Homo sapiens: one gene and its partner. The protein of the gene in region 2 purifies or fractionates together with the protein of the main gene of each other region. This does not show direct contact. Each region holds a gene or a part of one and is shown on either strand. Other genes may lie near its edges. The genes, in order: NMT2 and ANXA13.

The links.
Region 1: the proteins of ANXA13 (region 2) and NMT2 purify together in Homo sapiens (affinity purification with mass spectrometry; one large-scale study listed by BioGRID and IntAct). This does not show direct contact.

What each region holds. Positions count from the first base shown.
Region 1 is NC_000010.11:15,113,013-15,116,838, forward strand, and holds part of NMT2 (glycylpeptide N-tetradecanoyltransferase 2), read right to left. Parts: intron 1-3,826.
Region 2 is NC_000008.11:123,682,778-123,685,653, reverse strand, and holds part of ANXA13 (annexin A13), read left to right. Parts: intron 1-931; coding exon 932-1,044; intron 1,045-2,876.

The DNA of each region.
Region 1 (3,826 bases), on a different chromosome or scaffold from region 2:
ACGTGCATTTCCACTAACTCTGTTCTCTCCCTTGCCCCAGAGAACGAAAAGCAGTAAGTCACACTTCTTTCTCGGCAGTCCAATTTGGGGCCCCTTATATTGTGCTGTGTAGAGGCCAAGAAGGGCCTGGAGTTGGGACTTCAGCCTAAGTGCCCATTGGTGATTTGCACAAAGTTCTTAGGAAGCAGAATGTCATGCCTGTAATCCCAGCACTTTGGGAGGATGAGGCGTGTGGATCATGAGGTCAGGAGTTCGAGACCAGCCTGACCAACATGGTGAAACCCCATCTCTACTAAAGATATGAAAACTTAGCCAGGTGTGGTGGCGCACACCTGTAATCCCAGCTACTTGGGAGGCTGAGGCTGGAGAATCGCTTGAACCCCAGAGGCGGAGGTTGCAGTGAGCCAAGATTGTGTCACTGCACTCCAGCCTGGGCGACAGGATGAGACTCAAAAAAAAAAAAAAAAAAAAAAAAAAGAAAGAAAGATAGAAGCAGAATGTCCTAAAAGGAAAGCTTCCCTCAGGCTGACAAATGAGTCAATTCTTTAGACTAAGGGAACAGTGATAAAAGCAGATTCATTGTTTTTGCAGAAATAAAAGCTTTAAGGATTAGAGGGCTGCCTTCTCCAACTAAAAGATACTGTGTACTATCTCACACTGTCTTAGCACACAGAAAGAATTATATCAGGCCTAAGTAAGGTTGGGTAGAGTCTGGAAGCTGTTTGGAAGAGTTCGCAAGCTTGTGAAAGGTCTTACTACTGCACCAAAATATACACATGTGAACAACTGGAGAATTTTGCAGCTATCAAAAATAAGGGATACAATGGATGACATTCATTTCATCATCACTGGCAAAGCTTCCAATACAAGAAATTAGCCAGTATTGTTCGGGTTGTTGTAATTAGCTGTGGTGGCCTTGCTGACTTTTAGAATATGATGTGTTTGAATCGTGCGGCTGAAGAGGCTGGACCACACACATGCCACTGCTAGTATTTCTTTCAGCAGAAAAGGAAATTCCAGAAGGATGTATGCTTTGGTTTTCAAAGGCTTCCGAGTCATTAGACCTTTCTTCAGCCAGCAAGAAACTAAAGGGGTTAATCTACAGTGATTCCCTACTGCTCTATATTAGCAGCTCAGTATTGGAGATGAATTCAACCTTCAGGTTTAATAAGGATTTTAGATTCTTCTAAGAATTTCTCATATCCATCTCATACGCTGAATTACTGCAGGCACCTGCAGAACCTGATTAGGTTCCCCACCCCATTTTCATCATCTGCTTTCAGAAAACTACTTCTTCACATTCATATTGCTGGTAAAATTACTGTTTCCTCTCTTGCTGTTAAAATGACCAGAGAATCACCAACTGTTGGGGAAGAGTGGGATGATCTTTCCATTGTCCCTCACACCCAATCAATTGTAAAGACTGATAAAAAACAAAACAAAACAAAACAAAACAAAAAAACCCCGCTCACAACAAAACCCACCATGGCACCATGTCTAGATGGCTTATAAGCAACTTCTAACAACTTTCAAGGAACAAGTAATCCCTATTATTACATACACTGTTCCAGAGAAAAGAGAGGACAAGCTCTTCAGCTCATTCTAACTTTGGTATCAAGACAGGACAAGGACAGGGTAAGAAGGGGAAATTAATGGCCAACCTCAGTAGTGAGTATAGAAGATCCTAAGTAAAATATTAGCAAACTAGGGCTGGGCATGGTGGCTCATGCCTGTAATCTCAGCACTTGGGGAGGCCAAAGTGGGTGGATTTTCTGAGCTCAGAAGTTCGAGACCAGCCTGGCCAACGTGGTGAAACCCCGTCTCTACTAAAATACAAAACATTAGCAGGGTGTGGTGGCATGCGCCTGTAGTTCCAGCTACACAGGAGGCTGAGCACAAGAATTGCTTGAACCCAAGAGGCGGAGGTTGCAGTGAGCAGAGATTGCACCATTGTACTCCAGCCTGGGTGACAGAGCAAGACACTGTCTCCAAAAAAAATTAAAAAAAAAAATTGGGAAACTAAATCTAAAAACAGAGGTAGTCTCACACAAATGGAAACCAAAAGAATGTGTCACTAGCAGACATACCCTGAGACTGGCTAAAGGAATTTCTTCAAATAGAAAGGAAATAATAAAAGAAGGAATCTTGAAGCATCAGGAAGGAGGGAAGAATAATAGAGTAGAAATTTGGGCTACATATAATAAATTATGCTTCTCCTCAAGCATCATTATTAATCAGTGTTACAAATCATACTTGATGATTAAAACAAAAATCATAATACTGTCTGATATTTAAGACAACAATATTTAAAAATGAAAAAGGTAAAGTGACCTAAATAAAAGTAAGGTGACTCAAAGTAATAAATGTTGTTACCAATCGACTATAAGTCACATATATATATTGTAATACTCACATCAACCATCATAAAAACTATACAAATACACCCAAAGGTACTATAAATAAAACAGTATCCTAAAATATATTCAAGTAATCCACAGCAAGGCAAGAAAAAAGAAACAGAGGAACAAGAACCAGAAGAAACATAAAGAAACCAAATAATCAAATGGTAGACTTAAGCTCTACCATACCAATAATCACCTTTTATGTAAGTGGTCTAAATACACCAATCAAAAGAAACATCAGTAGTGTGGGTAAAGAAACATGACCCAGCTATAGGCTGTTTCCAAGAAACTCACTTCAAATTCAATAACATCAATAGTTTGAAAGTAAAAGGATGGAAAAAGTCCAAACAATTTTTAAAAGCAGGTCTGGTCACAGTAATATACAATAAAGTATACTCCAGAGCAAGGAAAATTATTAGAAAGAGAGGTATTACATTATGATAAAAAGATCAATCCACTAGGGAGACACAAAGACCCTAATATACATGTGAGTATCAAACAAGAGGCCCAGAAGAAATCAAGAAAAACTGACAGTGTTGGAAGGAGAAATAGACAAATCCACAATTACAGCTGGGGACTTCCATGCCCCTCTCATCAAGTGATAGAACTGCTAGACAGAAAATCAGCATGGAAACAGAAGAGCTGAATAACTCAATTAATCAACATGATGCAATTGCCATACAAAGAACACTCCACACAACCGTAGTGGTATACACGTTTCATGCACCCATGGAATATCCATCAAGACAGTCCATATCCCGAGTAATAAAACAAACCTCAAGAGCCTTAAAATAATCAAAACCATACAGTGTGTGTTCTTTAACCATAATTGAATCAAACTAGAAATCTGTAATAGGGAGACAACAGAAAATCTCTAAACACAGCAAAATTGAACAGCACAATTCTAAGTAGGGGTGGGCTAAAGAGGAAGCCTCAAACGAAACCAAAAAATACATAGACGTGAATGACAACGAAGATACAACATACCAAAATACGTCAGAAATAGCTAAAGCAGTGCAGAGAGGGAAACTGATAGAACTAAATGCTTACTAGTAACAGGGAAAGGTCTCAAGTCAGTAAGTTCTTCCCTCAAGGAACTAGAAAAGAAGAGCAAAATAAACCCAAAGCAAGCAGACAGAAGGAAACAATAAACACGAGGGTAGAAATCAATGACACTGAAAACAGGAAGACAACAGGGAATATCCAACAAAAGTCTGGTTCTCTGGGAAACAAATCAATAAAATGATACAAGTCTACCAATATGGACAAAAACAAAGAAAGAGAAGACACGAATCACCAATATCTGGTATGAAAGAAGAGATATCAGTACAGATCCCACAGCCACTAAAAGGATAACAAGGGAATAAAATGAACATTAATTACACTCATACATTCAACAATTTAGAAGAAATGGATGAACTCCT
Region 2 (2,876 bases):
TCACACAGACAGTCCCCTAGACAACAACAGCCCCATTATGGGACATAGTAAGATTGCACATTCCACATTTATGCTGAAATAATCACTTACTGTTAATCACTAACATCATCAAGTGTTCTAGAGAAATGTTAACAGCCTAAAGGGCAAATATTTTTTTTTTCCTCTAACGTGTTAGCCATGATGGATTCATATGAGCCTGGGAAGAGGGGAAGGAATGATTTATTCCCAGGAGAAGAGATGCACCCTGTCACCTGCTTGATGAATAGAGACCACGCTTCATTAAGCTGTAGATAGATCAAAGCTGGAAGGCAAGGGGAAGCCAGGAAAGAGCAAATAGCAGCATCGTAGGAAAGTGATCTTTAAAAAGGATCAAACATTTCATCAAGTCCACATCCCGGATTGCAAACCAAAAGATCGTGGGGAACCTGGAAAAGGTTCAGAGATGAGGCTTGCAAAACAACCCCAGTGAGGAAAAACAAAGAGTAGGGAGGTTGTTGAGCATAGGAGAGCAGGCGGCTGTCCAACTGGATACATTGTCAAGATGATGAAGTTTTGTTCCAGAAGGTTGCTGGCCAATCTGTTTCCCTTCAGAACCCTAGGACAGCACCAGAGATTTCACTCGATAGGGAAAGTTATTTCTGCTGGGAAATAACGAGAATCATGGACGTGGCCGGGAGGGCCCGAGGATGCCACAGCTCTCCTCTAGAGGGTCTTCAGGGGACAGGAGGGGAGCTATGCTTGAAGATTCCAGGTGCTCTGACCAGGGAATCTTCCAAATCTCATTTCGCAACGGTGTCAAGTCAGCTCTTTTCACACCTCTGTCTCACCATCCAGTCAGCTCGAAGGGCAGCCAGGTGACATTTAGGGGGGTCCCAAGGTCATTCCACAAAACGTGAAAGCCTCACATTCTCTTTTCCTTTGTCCTGCCCAGTGAGATGTGCCCAGGATTGTGAGGACTATTTTGCTGAACGTCTGTACAAGTCGATGAAGGGTGCGGGGACCGATGAGGAGACGTTGATTCGCATAGTCGTGACCAGGGCCGAGGTAAGACACACTCCGACTCCAAAGAGGCGGCTGCAACTTCTCTTTTTTCCACCACTGATGTCATCAACAAATAGTTTCTATTAAGGGCCTATTTACAGAAAAAGTAAAACAGAGACGGCCCCTTGCCTTCCCAGAATTTGCAGAAGACATTGTGCTCTGCTTCAATCTGTTTCTTTTTATAAAAATACAATAATGATCGTTGCTTCTTTTTTTGTCCTCTGTGGCTCTGGAGAGCTAGTGGAGGGGCGCAGAGGCAACCATGTCGAGCAGTTCTCAGGGGCTGCAGCTATGCATGGCTCCATGTTAAGGAAGACAAAACAAACACACTTGAAAGAGGTCAACCAGCAGCAGGAACAAAAAGAGAATGATTTCTGAATTCCTGAGTGAGGCCTTTCCTTAACTGAACACACTGCAGAAGCAAGCACATCAGCATAAGGCAATGGTTCTCAATCTTTTTAAAAACTATTGCTGTTCTAAGGAACCTTTTTAGACACGTGTTTCTTCATTGCCATCCCTTCCCCACAAGAAATGTTAACACCAGAGATAATACTACAAATCTGTTTATATACCATGTGGATATCAGTGCTTTATACATAAAAAAATTAAGGGCTTTTTCACCCCCTAAAAACCAATTTGTGCTTGCTCTCGGAGAATGTGTATGTATAAGAAAGAAAAGGGAGAGGAAGAGCCAACGGCTTGGGAGCAGCCGTCAAGATCACAGCTGGTCGGGTGCAATGGCTCATGCCTGTAATCCCAGCACTTTGGGAGGCCGAGGTGGGTGGATCGCCTGAGGTCAGGAGTTCGAGACCGGCCTGGCCAACATGGTGAAACCCCGTCACTACTAAAAATACAAAAATTAGCTGGGCATGGTGGCACACACTTGTAGTCCCAGCTACTCAGGAGGCTGAGGCATGAGAATTGCTTGAACCCAGAAGGTGGAGGTTGCAGTGAGCCAAGATGGTGCCACTACACTCCAGTCTGAGTAACAGAGCGAGACTCGGTCTCAAAAAAAAAAAAAAAAAAAAGGTCACAGCTAACAGTTCGGGATATGGGGCCACAGACAGAAGGTGGTACAAAATAAAGGGGAAGTGGCATTTCATCGGCAGCAGGAGAAGCCTTGGGGAATGAAGTGGAACTAAGCACTTGAAAACCACAGACATCTTCCCTCAAAAAAAAAAAAAAAAAGTGGTTAAATGAAGGGGGAGGTGAAGGGGGAGGGACACCAACCCAAATTCTGATCCATGGCTTCTTAACAAATAATGCTTAACATCTGACACTGTTTTTAAATATAACTTTGCAACAAGATGGTTCTTGCTTTTTTATTTCTATTCCTGGAATTTCTCCTCCCCTCCTTTCTCCTCCTCCACAACTCATCTTTTTCTATTGAAGGCCATGTCTCTCTCTCTCCCCTCTTTCCCTTTGCCAGTCTCTCTGCTCTGCTCCTGCCATGCCTCTGCCTCTCTCCTCCATGGCTCCAAATCCCTCTCCCTCCTTTCTCTCCAGGTCTTCTGCCTTGTCCGTCCCTCTGTCTGTTAGCAACTCGACCTCCAGCCAAAGTCACTGAGAGATGAGAGATCTTGAGGGACTCAAAAGGGACAGGTTGAACACAATGAAGACCCAGGATTCCAAATGACCCCCAGAGAGACTGGATCCATCCGAAGGGCTTGTGAGGGTTCCGTGATCACTCCGACATGGCCCACGGAGTGTTTTATTCCAAGAAGCTCTGTCCCATCTCAGAATCAACCACACGTCCTGGGCCATCTCAACATGTGGGCAGTTACCTCAGAAGGCTTCAGGCCTGGCTAGATATAGTAGTTTGGCCAGATTTCCTA